Linked DNA regions of Homo sapiens: region 2 is linked to region 1. Evidence: fine-mapped QTL for protein levels in blood plasma. Region 1 holds a variant in brackets. A gene starts in the other region. All regions are shown on their reverse strands.

Region 1 (8,334 bases):
AGGTTTTCGTCTATAGCAAAACAGTGATCCCAATAGATTTTAAAGGAAAAGAGCTAATGGATTATGTATACATAGACTAAAGCACACTGTCTTAGTCTGTTTGGCCTGCCACAACAAAATACCATAAATTGGGTGACTTATAAATAACAGAAATTTATTACTCAGTTCTGGAGCCTGGGAAGTCCAAGATCAAGATACCAGCATCATTGGATTCTGGTGAGGACCTTCTTCCCATTGCAGACTGTCAACTTCTTCTGTGTTTTTCATATGGCAGAAGGGGTGAGCTTGTGTTACAGGATCTTCAGGGTGTTGATTTTCTGGCCAGAAACCTCTGTGGCTGGCGGCACCTTTGCCAGAGTTCTTGTCCTGTGTCCAGGAAGAATGAGGTATGCAGACAAGTGAAGGGTGAACAAGACGAAGATGAGCTTTATTAAATGTTAGGACAGCTCAGAGGAGACCTGCAGTGAGTAACTCCTCTCTGTAGGCAGGTCATCCCATGGAATGTTCAGCTCTCAGCAGAGGGGAGGCCCTGGGGAGGGTAGCTTCTATCTGCTACTGGTCCTTCCTACGTTTGCTGCTCTCAGCAGAGAGGAGGCCCTGGGGACCGTTGCTTCTCTCTGCAGCCAATGTCTCTTCAGGTCTCTGAAGCGCTCAGCAGAGAGGGTAGTTCCACTCTGCGGCTGGTTGTCCTGTCCTCTCCTGCTATCAGCAGAGAGGGTAGTTCCTCTCTGAAGTTGGTCCTCTCTTCATCTCTTCCTCCTCTGCCCCTGCTCTGGCTGAGCCCAGGGCTTTTATGGACCTCAGAGGGGAGGAAGTGTGTGCCATTGGTCCACATGCAGCCCCAGAAGAGGCACCACAAGTCCCCACAGTCTACAGCACTGGCAGCCCGGTCCCCAGCCTTCAGGCCCTCCCAGGCCTGAAGGTGTGGCCCTACTGGGGACCCGCCGCCTTTGACCCAGGAATCTGTCTGCCTCCCACTGCCATTTATGTCTCCGGAGTTTGGCCAGCCTTTGCTCCCAGATCAGAGTGGGCACCGACAGCAGGGAGAAGGAGAAGCCAGGCAGTGGGAGCAGGCACTTCTGAGCCTGCGAGGGCAGGGGGATCTTCTCAGGCCCCAAGAGTGCAGAGATGCCTGAATCTGCAATCTCGATTTGGGTGGCTGCAGCTGCATGGGGCAGGGTTGTGGGGCAGGATTCTAGCATGCTGCAGAGAGCGGGAGGCCTGGGTCTACAGTGGTGGTTTGGGTGGCTGCAGCAGCACCTGGGGAGCTCACGTCCCAACTTGGAAGAGGCAGGGCTCCCACGGGCTCCAGAAAGTGTGCAGCCCTAGCTGCCCCTCCCTGCTGCAGCCTTTGTGATGGCAGGCTGCCATCCCTAGCTTTCTGAAGTCCCTTTTAGAAGAGCACTAATCTCATTCATGAGGGATCTACCCTTTAACCTAATCACCTCCCAAACGCCCATCATGTTGGGTGTTAGAATTTCAACATATGAATTTTGAGAGGATGCAAACATTCAAGGTAGAGCACAGGTGTTTTGTATATAAGAATATTACCTTGACTGGGCATTGTGGCTCATGCCTGTAATCCCAAAACTTTGGGAGGCCAAGGCAGGTGGATCATCTGAGGTCAGGATCATCATCGAGACCAGCCTGGCCAACATGGTGAAACGCTGTCTCTACTAAAAATACAAAAAAATTAGGCAGGCATGGTGGCAGGTGCCTTAATGCCAGCTACTTGGGAGGCTGAGGCAGGAGAATCCCTTGAACTCAGGAGGTGGAGGTTGCAGTGACCTGAGATTGTGCCATTGCACTCCAGCCTGGGCAACAAGAGCGAAACTCCATCTCAAAAACAAAAACAAAAACAAAAAACAAACAACAAAACAAACAAACAAAAAAACCAATATTATCTGTGGGGTCCAGCCCTACAGGGTCTGTGGGTTTTTCTCCTCGTGTGCGGAGACGAGAGATTGTAGAAATAAAGACACAGGACAAAGAGATATAAGAAAAACAGCTGGGCTGGGGGGCCACTACCACCAAGGTGCGGAGCCTGGTAGTGGCCCCGAATGCCAGGCTGCGCTGTTATTGATTGGATACAAGACAACGGGGCAGGGTAAGGAGTGTGAGCCATCTCCAGTGATAGGTAAGGTCACTTGGGTCATGTGTCCACTGGACAGGGGGCCCTTCCCTGTTTGGCAGCCAAGATGGAGACAGAGAGCACGGCTTATGCCATTATTTCTTCTACGCATTTCAAAGACTTTTAGTACTTTCACTATTTCTGCTACTGCTATCTAGAAGGCAGACCCAGGTGTACAGGGTGGAACATGAAAGTGGACCAGGAGCATGACCACTGAAGCACAGCATCACAGGGAGACGGTTAGGCCTCCAGATGGCTGCGGGCAGGCCTGACTGATGTCAGGCCTTCCACAAGAGGTGGTGGAGCAGAGTCTTCTCTAACTCCCCCGGGGAAAGGGAGACTCCCCTTCCCGGTCTGCTAAGTAACAGGTGCCTTCCCCAGGCACTGATGCTACTGTTAGACCAAGGTCTGCTAGGTGACGGGTGCCTTCCCTGGCGCTGGTGTTACCGCTAGGCCAGGCAGCCCTCTAGAAGCCCTGTCCGGGCGTAACAAAGGGCTCACACTTGTTTTCTGGTCACTTTTCATCATGTCCCTTCAGCTCCTATCTCTGTATGGCCTGGTTTTTTTCTAGGTTATAATTGTAGAACAAAGATTATTATAATATTGGAATAATAATACCACAAACTAATGATTAATGATAATCATATATAATCATATCTATAATCTATTTTTAGTATAACTATTCTTATTCTATATATTTTCTTTATTATACTGGAAGAGCTTGTGCCCTCAGTCTCTTGCCTTGGCACCTGGGTGGCTTGCCACCCACGATTACCTCCTTGTAAACGTGGATGTTTGATAGGGAAAGGGCACAAGGAGTTGGTCTGTTTTGCTTGCGATCAATGCCCAAAATTTGTGAATCTAATTCATTCTTATAAGAATAAAAAATAATTAAGATTATTATTGCTGGACCCTCTTAGACCCTATCTGGCAGTTTTCCAAAAGGATTTCCCATAAAAGGAGATAATTAATGAATGTAAAAGCTAAAATTATTAAAATAAAAAGTAAAGAAGAAATAATATGCATGACTAAAACCTTGTCCACTGAGAAAATAAAAACATAGAATCCCTCCAGGGATTTACTTAAAGAAAGAAGAGAGAAAACAAATTGTACAATATTAGTGATGAGAAAGGACACAACGAACACATAAAGACAAGATTAAAATTATTAGAATAAGATCGTATAAAACAGTTGTAACAAATTTGAAAATTCAGTAGGAGTATAAATTATCACAGCCTTAGCTCAAAATTTGTTAGAAATTAGTTATCTCAGACCCATATACTTACCAGTCTAGTGGAAAATATACAGTAAAGGATTTTTCTACGTTTGCCTCATAATGCAGAATTTGCTGTCTCTCAGGCTTAACTCCTATTCTAACGGCTCTATTTTACAGAAAAGAATTTCTGCGTGGAAATGGCTTAGCTGCTGGGAAAATGAACATCAGTATTGATTTAGACACAAACTATGCTGAGCTGGTTCTAAATGTGGGAAGAGTCACTCTTGGAGAGAACAATAGAAAAAAAATGAAGGATTGTCAACTGAGAAAACAGCAGAATGAAAATGTCTCACGAGCTGTGTGTGCTCTGCTGAATTCTGGAGGGGGAGTGATCAAGGCTGAAGTTGAGAATAAAGGCTATAGTTATAAAAAAGATGGAATAGGGCTAGATTTGGAAAATTCTTTTAGTAACATGCTGCCATTTGTTCCTAATTTCCTGGACTTCATGCAGAATGGTAACTACTTTCA[C/T]ATTTTTGTGAAATCATGGAGCTTGGAAACCTCTGGTCCGCAGATTGCCACGTTGAGCTCCAGTTTGTACAAGAGAGATGTAACGTCTGCAAAAGTCATGAATGCTTCTGCTGCACTGGAGTTCCTCAAAGACATGGAAAAAACTGGAGGGAGAGCATATTTAAGACCAGAATTCCCTGCAAAAAGGGCCTGTGTTGATGTACAAGAAGAAAGTAACATGGAAGCCTTGGCTGCTGATTTTTTTAACAGAACAGAACTTGGTTATAAAGAAAAATTGACCTTTACTGAATCCACACACGTTGAAATAAAAAACTTCTCGACTGAAAAGTTGTTACAACGAATTACAGAGATTCTCCCTCAATATGTTTCTGCATTTGCAAATACTGATGGAGGATATTTATTCGTTGGTCTAAATGAAGATAAAGAAGTAATTGGCTTTAAAGCAGAGAAGAGTTATCTTACTAAGTTAGAAGAAGTAACAAAAAATTCCATTGGGAAACTGCCTGTGCATCACTTCTGTGTGGAGAAGGGGACGATAAATTACTTATGCAAATTCCTTGGAGTATATGATAAAGGAAGGCTTTGTGGATATGTGTATGCACTCAGAGTGGAACGCTTCTGCTGTGCAGTGTTTGCTAAAAAGCCTGATTCCTGGCACGTGAAAGATAACAGAGTTAAGCAGTTGACCGAGAAGGAATGGATCCAGTTCATGGTGGATTCAGAACCAGGTTGAGGAAGGAGGATTGGCAATAAGGATACCTTTGGCTTGGGTGGCAGGAAGGTTTTATTGTATCTTTGGGATTAGGGACAAGATTAAAAGTCTTCAAATTTCAACATCTCTGGTGGATACAACCAATACTTCCCTGCCTCTTGTTTTCTTCTGCACACTTAGAAGATAGATATTCCATACAATAACTAAATATCTACTCTTAGTAGCCTTATCTGATGCAAAGATTCTAGATGTTTCTTCTCTACCATTTCTTTACTCACTTTCAAGGAAAGCCTGTTCAATTCTTTTCGTTTTTCTTTCAGGGCTCATTTTCTGTAACTAACCATTGCTTTCTTTTGGGAACACTTACTCTTTTACTTGCTTGCTCTTTCATCTTTCTTTACCCACTTTCCATTTATTTCCTGTAAAGACTTCCCCTCTTCCTCTCACATTTATGAGCCAAAGAGTAACCTAAATTGTACCAATAAGAGAAGAATAATGCTGATATTTTATCTGGTTTTGGAAAAGGAAAGCCTCCAGTGAGATTAGACCAGAACTAGCAACTTACAAAATCTCTGAAAATGCAAACTTGTTCCTCAGAATCTGCATAAAACCCAGTTTTCCTTCACTAGCCATCACATTCTTCTAATTTTAACTTGTTTTAAAATAAACTCAGTTATATGGCAATGTATTAAATTGCTATCAATGCATTTTTACTGTTAATTTTCCTTCCAAGTATAGAGTGTTTCAGCAGCATCAAGAGTTAATTTTACAATTTGTATCTGACCTAGGAATCTAACCACAATATGTAACCACAATATCTAATGTTCTGTATTGGGAATGCAGGATCAGTTCTAAGTAGACGTTTGGTATACTGTGCATTAGTTAGCTTGAGTCTCTCCCATGCCAAATTAAGAGCGTGATTTTTGTTTTCTAACATTATTCCATAGTATGTGAGGAACTGCCCTCTCCAGCAAGTACATCATCACCTGTCTCCCAGAGTTATCCTCTTCGTGAATATATTAACTTCAAAATTCAGCCACTGAGATATCACCTTCCAGGTAATTTAATTCTGGCTTCCGTGGAGTTGTTGGTGTAACTGTGTTCAAACCTCCTTCTCTTCAAACCAGCTCTGTCTTGATATTTGTTATGGAAGCACATTCTTTTGTTTATGGAAATTCTTTGGTGTTTTTAGTCATTGAATTTGTCAAATTCTATTTCTTTAGGTGCCTAAGTAGGGGTAGAATTGTTCGTTCAGGCAGTGTGTGAATATTTAAGTAATAAGATAATGTCAAATTATTTCCAAAGTAGATAGCTCACTTTACTTCCACCAGCAATATATTGGAAATGCCACATCTTTTCCAATGCCAGACTTCTCTCTTCATCTTTCTACTTGAACTTCTTTTCTCTTGAACTTCTTTTCTTCCTCAGTCAAATCGGTATTTATTTGGGTATATACATGGAAGAAAATATCTCCCATAGAAGATATTTTATCTTCTATGAAGTGGCGATTCTGTCTTTTGCTCATTTTTGTAATAGGCTTTATCTTTTTCTTACTGATTTCTAGGAGCAATTCACAGATTCTAACATAAAATCCTCGTTTAGTCACAGATAGTACAGATTTCAGACGTCTTCTCCAAGTTCATGACTTGCATTTTCTCTTTTCCCAAGGCATATTCTCCCTAGCAGTTTTAAATTGGATATAGTCAAACTTGCCATTTAAAAATTTTGTGGTTTAGTGCTCTTTGTGCCTTGTGTAAGAGATCCTTCCCTACCCCGGGGTTATAAAGATATTTCTGTTTATTTTCTTTTAAAAATTTTAAAGTTTTGCACTTAACATTTAACATTTAAATATGTAATCCACATCCATAAACGGTGATGTAGGGGGCTATTTCATTTTATCCCATGTGGATAACCACTTTTCCTAGATCCAGTTACTGAAAACTCAGTTTCACCTGCTGATCGCCACCTCTGGGATATTACTGCATACAACTGACCCTTGAACAAACTGGGGCTTAAGACCACCAAACCCCTGATGATTTTTATCCATTGATTTCAATTTTCTGAGCCTGTAAGAGGATCAGGACATCTTCATCTTTTCACCTATTTTATTTTTGGGGGGTTTTAAAAAAGATGTAACAGTTATTTTAAAGTCCCTCTTTGATGACTCCAATGTCTGAAGCACTTGCCAGTCTTTTTCTATAATCCAGTTTTTCTCTTATTTTCTAGTAATTTGTTCTGATTTTTATCCTGTCTCTTAATTTTGTATAGTATTATGGATTACAAATTGTAGAGACTTTAGTAGATGTTACATTTCTTCAGATAGGGTTACACATTTTTTTTTTTTTTGGCAGACAGAACACCAGTGATAACTTTTACTCTTTTGAAGTTTTGTTTTATGCTTTTCTAGGTATAGTAGCTTTTAATTTTGCACTAATTACTAGGTCATGGCTCTTCTGGGGTCTTAAAGTCTGGGGTATTTACCAAGACCCTTCTACTTGGCTGGGAGTTGAATTACAATTTGTGTTTCCTGAGCACCGTGAGGCTGATGAAAGTGATGTTCAGCTCTTTAATCTCCCAGTTGATCAGTTGATATTTTCTCCTTCCTTCCTTCTTTCCTTCCTTCCTTCCTTCCTTCCTTCCTTCCTTCCTTCCTTCCTTCCTTCCTTCCTTCCTTCCTTGCTTTCTTTTCTTTCTTTTTGTGACAGGGTTTCACCATATTGCCCAGGCTGGTCTCAAACTCCTGGGCTCAAGCAATCCACCTGCCTCGGCCTCCTAAACTGCTGGGATTACAGGCATAAGCCACCACACCCAGCCCTAGTTGATATTTTCTTCTGTGTTTCTAGCATCTCACCTGTATTAGCCAGTGAGTTGAGGGAAATTTGTGGGTAGATTTTGGCTTCTTCTCTTCAGTTTCATCTTCTCTGGGATTTTGTTTCTGAAATCCCAGCTCCTCTGGCAGCCCTGAAGTCTGACCTCTGTTTTCTTTAGCCCAGTAAAACTGCTGATTTCTGCATGGGCTCTATTTACCCATGCTGTGATATGGAAAATCTCCTTAGGGAAAAAGCAGAGGTGAATGTGAAGCTACTTCCTGTGATTCTTCTGTATTAAAGATTGTAGCCCTTTAAGTCCTGCTTGTATTGGTTGCTCTCCAGTCCTTTAAATTATAGTTTTATGATATATATATATACATATATATAAATTTAAAAAAATATATATATATGTAGAATTTTTTTGAGACAGAATCTCATGCTGTTGCCCAGGCTGGAGTGCAGTGGCATGATCTCAGCTCACTGCAGCCTCAACTTCCTGGGCTCAAGTGATCCTCCCACCTCAGCCTCCCAAGTAGCTGGGACTACCAGCATGCACTACCATGCTTGGCTAACTTTGTAACCTTTTTGTAGAGAAGAGGTCTTACAGTGTTGCCTAGACTGGTCTTGAACACCTGGGCACAAGTGATCCTCCTGCCTCTGCCTCCCAAAGTGTTGTTATTACAGGTGTGAGCCACCATGCCTGGCCCTGATACACTTTTACATAGCTTTTATAGTTGCTTTTGGTGGGAGAATTAATCTAATACAAGCTGCTTTGTATCCATGGCTTAAGTTGGAAGTTCTCAGTCTTTTATAATTTATCATTATTTCCCCATCTAGGGCTATCAGAAAAGATAACTTGTGCTCCAAAAACCTTCTGCAGAAATCTGTTCTCACAACATGAAGGACTTAAGCAATTAATATGTGAAGAAATGGGCTC
Region 2 (8,334 bases), not on the chromosome of region 1:
ATTGCACTGGAATTCCTAAACAGAGCAATTAGGTAAGAAAATGAAAGAAAAGGTATCCAATTATGAAGGAAGAAGTAAAACTATTTCTATTTGCAGATGACATGACTGTATACAAAGAAAATCCCAAATAATCCACACAAAAACTAGTAGAGTTAATAAGCAAATTCAACAAATTTCAGGGTACAAAATCAGTTGTGTTTCTATACACAAACCCACAATGAACAATAAAAAAAGGAAACTAAGAAAACAATTTCCTTTATAATAACATCCCAAAGAATAAAATACATGGGACTAAATTTAACCAAGGAAGTGAAAGAATTGTACACTAAAAACCACAAATAATTGCTGATTAAATGGAAAGATGTCCCATGTTCACGGATAGGGATACTTAATATTGTTAAATGGCAATACTTCCCAAAGCAATCTATAGATTCAATGCAATCTCTGTCAAAATTTCAAATGGTCTTCTTTGCTGAAATGGAAAAGCCAATCCTAAAATTCATATGTAATTCCATAGGATCCAAAAAAGCAAAACCAATATTGAAATAGAAAAACAAAGTTGGAGTACTTACACTTCTCAATTTCAAAACTTACAAGCTACAGTAATTAAAACAGCATGGCAAAGGCATAAGGATAGACATATGGATCAATGGAATAGATTCAGAGTCCAGAAATAAACACAACATTTATGGCCATTTGATTTTTGATAAGGATTGTCAAGGGGGTCTTGAACATTCAGTGGGGAAAGAATAATATCTTCAACAAGTGGTGCTGGAACAATTGGATAGCCATGTGCAAAATACTCTAGTAGACTCCTACCTTATGTCACATACAATAATTAATTTAAAATAAATCAATCCTAAATATAAGGGCCAAAACCATAAAACTCTTAGAAGAAAACAGGCGTAATCTTCATGGTTTCTGATTTGTCAATGGATTCTTAAATTTGACACCAAAAGCACAAGCAACAAAAGATAAAATTGATACATTTGAATGCATAAAATTTTTTTAATTTGCACATGGAATGACAATATCAAGAAAATGAAAAGACAATCTGCAGAATGGGAGAAAATATTTACAAGCCACATATCTGATAAGGGCTGAGTATCCAGAATATATAACAAACTCTTCCAACTCAACAATGAAAACAAAAACAACGCAATTTTAAGAATGGGCAAAGGACTTGAATCAACATTTCTCCAAAGAAGATATGCGAATAACCAGCAAACACATGAAGTGATGCTCAACATCATTACTCATAAAGGAAATGTGAATCAAAACCATATGACATACTACTTTACACCCATTAGGATGAAGATAATAATTTTAAAATAACAAGTGTCAGCAAGGATGCAGAGAAATAGGAACTTTCCTATGTTGCTGATAAGCAATGCAAAAGGGTACAACCACTGTGGAAAACAGTTTGGTGGTTCCTTAAAAAATTAAAAATAGGATTATTGTATAACTCAGAAATTCCAAAAGTATATATATTTGGTATATATCCAAAAGAACTGAAAACATATTGTTCATGCAGAAATTTGTACACAAATGCTTATTATTGCTGCATTAGCTACAATAGCCAAAAGATGAAAACAACCCAAATGTCCATTGACAGATGAACAAATAACTTGTGGTATAAACATACAATGGGAATATTATTTTTCCATTAAAAAGAACGAATACTGGCATGTGCTACAGCTTGTATGAATCTCAGAAACATTATTACAAGTGAATGTAGCCAGCCACAACAGGTCATGTATTGTGTGATTCCGTTTATATGAAATATCCAGAGGTGGTGGTTGCAGATTTTGAATGTGCTAAATGTCACTGAATTGAATACTTTAAAATGGTTAATTGTATGTTATGTGAATTTTACCTCAATTTTTTAAATGGGTCATAAACTTATGTTTAGCATAATCCCCTTTTAATTTTAAAAAATGCAGATATTACATGAGAAAAAATGTGCTAGAGCATATTTCAAGACATTAAAGATGGTTATCAGTGAATGATGAGAAATTAGGTAATGTTTATTATTTTCGCTTTGCTAAAATTATTTAAAAATTACTTGCATATTAAATTTTTTAATGCCTAGGAAAGAAAGACTATAGTTGTATTGACTAAGATTTCTACGAGCATGGGGAAAATGCTTAATTTGTAGGGTTAATCAAGGATAAAATAAATTGCATTGTATGTACAATGTGATCCCAAGTATTTAAAACACACTGCTTATGGTAACAGTCAGTCTGTGGGAGACAGGTTAAAAAGTGATATTTTCCCTTCCTACTTTCCAAATTTTCTTAACAAACATATATTATGACTATAATCAGAAAAAATTATTTTTAAAACGTCTACTATGGGGCAAGCTAGGTTCAAAAAATAGAAGTTTGATAAATGTAGTTGGCTTGCTATTGACAAGGAAGACGTTTACACTGGAATTCTATATTTTGAGATATACCATTCCTCATAGAAAAATTTCCTCACAGAAAATATAAAGGTGGAAACAAATCACAAGAATCGAACCATGTAGAGAGACTTAGTTGTCTTTTAACAGAATTGGGCACGGGCTGTTCAGAAACAACAATCTTTCACATCCATTATAATGATAGCATTAGTGTAGTTTGTTTAGCAAATGTTTACTGTGAGCCTGTTATGTGCTGAGCCTGCTATGTAAGAAGTGTGGCTCTCTGGACAGGAGACAGAATACTAAACAACACAACTACTGATCTTTGGCTGCCTGGCATGCTTCCTCACTTCATATGGTATCAGCAATTTAGCACCACAAACGTCCTTTAGAGAACCAGCCCTTTCTCATTCTTGGTTCTAGTGGCTTGAGTAGACTGACCCCAGCCTACCCAAAGTGGATTTGACTCCTAGCAATTCATTAATCTAGCCCAATAAAATGTCAAGTACAGGACTTTTATTGAAAGCATTCAGAAAAGAGGTGGACTCTCACACTAAACATTTGTAACTAAATAAGGGATGTTAGAAATTCTCTAGAAAGGAAGCTATGATAATAAATGGGTTGCTAGATGGGTCTAGTAGATGGTGGCCATGCTTTGTTACTGCCTTGTGTATTGTGCTACCATAGCCCTCCCCAAACTGTACTCTGGCTCCTGGCATTTCCGTCTCTTCAACCAGATGGTCAGCTCTCTAAGTGAAGGAGACACATCTCCAACATGCTTGGTTCTAGCACAACAGAAGGGCTCAAACACATACCTGCTAAAGAAACTATCCTGATGGATTTAGCAGCATGGCCATGAGGCATTGGCGGTTCTATCACTGGGAACTCAGGTTTCTGGTGCTCCAGTACCTCTACTGGCTGATACCACATCCTACAATTCACTTCATAGGCTTGGGTTCCTGCTCTGGGCTGAATAGGTGGTCCACTCTGAGTCATCAGCTGTGGGTGATGATGTGGTCACTGCATGATTCTCACACAAGCACCCAGAGGACGTCATCAGGCAGAGGCAGTGGGGGTGGGCAGCATTTACAGAAAATCTGTGATGAGACACCACAAAACCAGAGGGGAACATGAAGTCACTGAGCCTGCTCCACCTCTTTCCTCTCCCAAGAGCTAAAAGAGAGCAAGGAGGAAACAACAGCAGCTCCAACCAGGGCAGCCTTCCTGAGAAGATGCAACCAATCCTGCTTCTGCTGGCCTTCCTCCTGCTGCCCAGGGCAGATGCAGGTGAGTGACCGTCTCCACCCTCGGGGGCCCAACCCCATCCCACAGGTCTCCTGCCCTTTCTCCACATTCCTGATCCATCTATCTACCAGGAATGTTCTGAACTCCAGCTCCCATTCTACCAAGACCCCCCAAGTGTGATGCTGGATAAGCTATCAGCAGGAATGGCAGAGCAGCAGGCCATTCTCAAGAAGAGCCAGTGGGTACTATCCCTTCCCCAGAGCCCACCTTTGTCACCTGGAGAGTAGGACTTTCCTAGAAGTAAATGGCAGAGGATGGGAAACTAGAAAAGAGAAATATTAAATTATTCTAGAGTAGGCCTGGCTTCTGTTTCTGGGATAAGACAGGTGCTTCTCTCACTGTCTACTTAGGAGAGAAACCCAGAGCTCAGCTGACAGCAGAATTGGTACAATCACTGTCCTCAGAACACTGTTAATGTGTTTGCTCAGTCCCATTCTCCAACTCTGCTTTTCTTCCCTGGCCTTTGGTGGCTCCCCTCTTTCCAAGGATGAGGCACTACGGCAGGCCCCAGCTTCCCTGCTTTCTAGAATTCCACCAGCACTGCTCTACCAGCCCTCATCCAGAGGCTAACTGGAGCCAGTCCATCATGCAGCCATGAACATTTACTGGGCACCCACTACATGTCAGGCTCTAGGAAACAGGATATGACAGTATCTAGATCCCTCCACTTACACCCTGGCCATTAGAAAGCAGCACTATCCTAGACACCACAGGACTCATAAGGGTCTTGGAAACTCACCTGAAACAAAGCAAAGTCAGGAGAGGAATGATCAGGAGCCTCTGGGATTTCACTGTCCCTAAGACAGGTATGCTCGCCTTCAACTACATATGGAAGAAAGATTTACAGACCAAAGTCTGCTGTTCTTCCCTTTTTCAGAGCAGGAAATTGAAGCCCCTTCCTCCAGGCCACTCCCAACTCCAGGCTATCCCAGGCTCCCAAATGCCCAGGAGTTCTGGAGCCACTAAGCAGGTGCCCACCCAGCAGATTCCATGGGTGCCCACAAGCAGACAGACTTTTCCTTCAGGGGAGATCATCGGGGGACATGAGGCCAAGCCCCACTCCCGCCCCTACATGGCTTATCTTATGATCTGGGATCAGAAGTCTCTGAAGAGGTGCGGTGGCTTCCTGATACGAGACGACTTCGTGCTGACAGCTGCTCACTGTTGGGGAAGGTGAGGAGCAGAAAACAGCCCACACCCTCCTGGAAACACTCCACAGAGACCCCTGCCTTCTTCCCAAGGAGCTCCCTGGGCTCCTGTGAACACACATGCCAGGAGGTCTCCTTAGAGGGTGAGAAAAGGGCAGTTAAGTTTGTGGAGAGAGGGGAAGGTTGGTTCCAGAGGTGCTGCTGAAGTAAGAAACAGCAGAGTGACCAAGCCTGCCATATTTAGAACTGGGGGCATACTTTGGCATAGAATACAAACTGAAGCAATTCCACCTGTGTTTCTAGGGGGAACCGAACCCTGAGAAACCTGGTGCAATTACCAGAATTCCAATTCCTGGGGACCGACTGTCCCCTTAATTTCCCCTCAGCTGCAGCCCTGCCCCAGCTGTCACCTGCTCTTCACTGTCTCTGGGCTGTATACCCTGTGACTCCACCCCCATCCTCACTCTGCTCTCTGTGCAGCTCCATAAATGTCACCTTGGGGGCCCACAATATCAAAGAACAGGAGCCGACCCAGCAGTTTATCCCTGTGAAAAGACCCATCCCCCATCCAGCCTATAATCCTAAGAACTTCTCCAACGACATCATGCTACTGCAGGTGAGGCACACTCCTGCCACTCTTGCTCTTCTTGGTCCAGTTGGTTCCACTCCCCCTGGAATGCCGGCCCTTCCCTCCTTTCCATCCTGGCCTCTTGGTTAGTTCCTATGCCTCAGAGGAGAGGGAAGATTGTGCAGCCCCATCACTGTGTCGGGGCCCAGAAGTTCGTTGGCTGACCTGGACTTTCTTGCCTCTTCCCCACCAGCTGGAGAGAAAGGCCAAGCGGACCAGAGCTGTGCAGCCCCTCAGGCTACCTAGCAACAAGGCCCAGGTGAAGCCAGGGCAGACATGCAGTGTGGCCGGCTGGGGGCAGACGGCCCCCCTGGGAAAACACTCACACACACTACAAGAGGTGAAGATGACAGTGCAGGAAGATCGAAAGTGCGAATCTGACTTACGCCATTATTACGACAGTACCATTGAGTTGTGCGTGGGGGACCCAGAGATTAAAAAGACTTCCTTTAAGGTAAGACTATGCACCTGCCTGGATTGGCTCTTGGGAGAAAGATGTTTGGGGAATATCTGAGACCTGGAGACTCAAGTAGTGGGGGACTCCTTCACCCACTAGACTGTGATATTTCTCTCTGGAAAGAGAAGAGGGGACTAGACTGAGCTGGGGAGAAATTAGGGCCTCTGCAAACTTACCAGGAGGCTTATGGTGGATGGTGCTTCTTTGGAAGGATGAATTTGCAACACTCCACCCACTCCAGGTCACAGATATTAGGAAACTGTGCCCACTGGGGGTGCAGTAATTATAACCAGGTGTGTCTTCAGAGGCTGGTACCCAACGTGGTTAATGGGCTGGTCCTCCATGGTGGACATCAGCCCTCCTTGCCCACTTCTGGGTCCTTAAACAGCCAACGGTCCCACATACCTCCGATCTCAGGATCTGGGGGACATGACGGAGGCTGGCCCCTGGGATGAGGTGAAGCAGTAACAATGTCCAGGGCCAGAGCTTGGCAGCTGGGGGCCACCAGCGGCCTGCCCTGCCCTCTGGTCTCCCACATGTAGGCTGTGCAAGTTGGCCTTTTCTAAAAGGGGGCTTGAGATGGAAGAGAGGGCAGGACCCGGAGGAGCATCAGCTCAGTCCTTCCACTCTCTATTCACAGGGGGACTCTGGAGGCCCTCTTGTGTGTAACAAGGTGGCCCAGGGCATTGTCTCCTATGGACGAAACAATGGCATGCCTCCACGAGCCTGCACCAAAGTCTCAAGCTTTGTACACTGGATAAAGAAAACCATGAAACGCTACTAACTACAGGAAGCAAACTAAGCCCCCGCTGTAATGAAACACCTTCTCTGGAGCCAAGTCCAGATTTACACTGGGAGAGGTGCCAGCAACTGAATAAATACCTCTTAGCTGAGTGGAAAAGCTGGTTTCTTGTTTATTCATTGACCCTCATTCTCAGGCACCACATCTGCGCTATGCAGGCCAATGACACAATTTTGCTGTTTTCTGCTTTCTCCTCTCCCCTCACCCCTTGCCACCTCCCCAAACCCCCACATGAAGCTGATACTCAGCTCCTTCCTATCCACACCAGTTTCTCCAGGGCCTGCCCTTCTGCCAAGGCTGAAGCTGAGCACCATCAGGAGACAACATGGACCACTTTGGTCCTGGGGCTTTGGGTAAACTTCTTACCTCCTTCTCCAGTGTTACATGACAGAGAAAAAAGGGATAATACCATGGGACCTAACTCCTCATCCCCCACTGGGGCTCCTCATTCTCCCCTGGGCTTAGTTTCTCTACCCTCCTCTGAGCTCAAGGCTCAGCTCGTCCTCCAGCCTCTTGGCTGCCCCTTCTCTTCATCCCTGCTGAGTGTTCTCAGAATCCACCAACTCTTGTCCTCTCCAGACCACACTGATCTGATCTGGCCCCTCCCTCATATCTACCCACCTAAGATACCCAGAGACCCATGTGGTTCCATAAGGGCCTTGCCACTGAGACGCCAGCCCATCTCATGCCCTGGCAGAGAGGGGCCTCAGAAAAACCAGGCCTGTGTGGCAACCAGGTAAGACCCATGGAGGACAAGGCTGGCACGGTCTCTCTCCAACCCTTGGCTCCATCTCTCCCCTAGGTAGGGCCAGCTCAACCCCTCCCATCCAGCCCAGTGTCCTCCCATACACTCAAGGTTCACTGCCCACCTGGGCAGTCAGCAGGCTGAGCCCCTTTAAACCTGTTCCTCTTGGTCACTGCTGGCCTCTAGGCTAAGATTCCCTGCTAGCCACCTGGGCTACATCAGCCCTTTGAGTTCAAAAGGACTCCTTTCTGCAGAAGGACTAGAAAGCACAATCTTTTCTATCAATCAACAAACAAATACTCATTGAGCACTTACTATGTACCAGGCATAGAGGATAGTAAGAGAACACAATAACAGACTCTATCATCTGAACCCAAGTGAAACTGACAATGTTGAGAATTTTCATCCAAATTGTTTCACTCACTTTCTGTCCTTCAGATTAGTTCACAAGAGCGAGATGTATATGGAAATCCATGGGATTAAAGTATTTGTATCTTATTTTTATTTCTGGTTTTTCTGAGGCCCCTCCCTGCCAGGGCATGAGGTGGGCTGGCATCTCAGTGGCAAGGCCCTTATGGAACCACGTGGGTCTCTGGGTATCGTAGGTTGGAAGATATGAGAAAGAGGCCAGATATTCACACAGTTTGTATAAGTATTGTCACGTGCGACCCCAGAACAGCAATGTATGGGATTTGAAAACAACTTTAATCATTTACTTTCTAGACATGAAGTTGTCAAACTGTTCAATGGAGCGTCATCTTCACCTAGGGGGAAGAGTAGCAGGGCAGGAAGAAGACAACTAGGGCAGGCTTATTTTCATTTGTTTAAAAAGTAGCAAGGATGAATGT

Direction of the effects. Alleles are on the strand shown, and positions count from the first base shown. The strength of an association depends on the size of the effect and on how common the allele is.
For the plasma level of the protein whose gene starts at base 3,604 in region 2, allele C in region 1 goes with a higher level than allele T (moderate association).

What was found. A credible set is the group of variants that fine-mapping cannot tell apart. PIP is the posterior inclusion probability: the model's chance that the variant is causal. The UK Biobank Pharma Proteomics Project read protein levels with antibody pairs (Olink). The fine-mapping took linkage between variants from a reference panel, not from the people measured, so its PIPs are less certain.
Region 2: GZMB starts here. The variant in region 1 is the best candidate, but not a certain one, in a credible set for the plasma level of the GZMB protein (UK Biobank, PIP 0.63).

The regions. Positions count from the first base shown.
Region 1 is chr17:35,475,386-35,483,719 of GRCh38, reverse strand. SLFN12L (schlafen family member 12 like) reads left to right here. Exons shown (of 5, transcript NM_001363830.2): 3 at 3,525-4,603; 4 at 5,535-5,645; 5 at 8,235-8,334. Among named protein-coding and RNA genes, the nearest start is that of SLFN13, 31 kb to the right of the region's middle. The variant C/T (reference allele first, on the strand shown) is at 3,876.
Region 2 is chr14:24,629,460-24,637,793 of GRCh38, reverse strand. It overlaps GZMB (granzyme B), which reads left to right and starts at 3,604. Exons shown (of 5, transcript NM_004131.6): 1 at 3,604-3,688; 2 at 4,732-4,879; 3 at 5,335-5,470; 4 at 5,676-5,936; 5 at 6,580-6,840. The coding sequence starts at 3,634. The coding sequence ends at 6,723. It overlaps GZMH-AS1 (GZMH and GMZB antisense RNA 1), which reads right to left and starts at 4,692. Exons shown (of 3, transcript XR_007064087.1): 1 at 4,446-4,692; 2 at 1-3,498. RefSeq lists an enhancer at 3,026-4,225.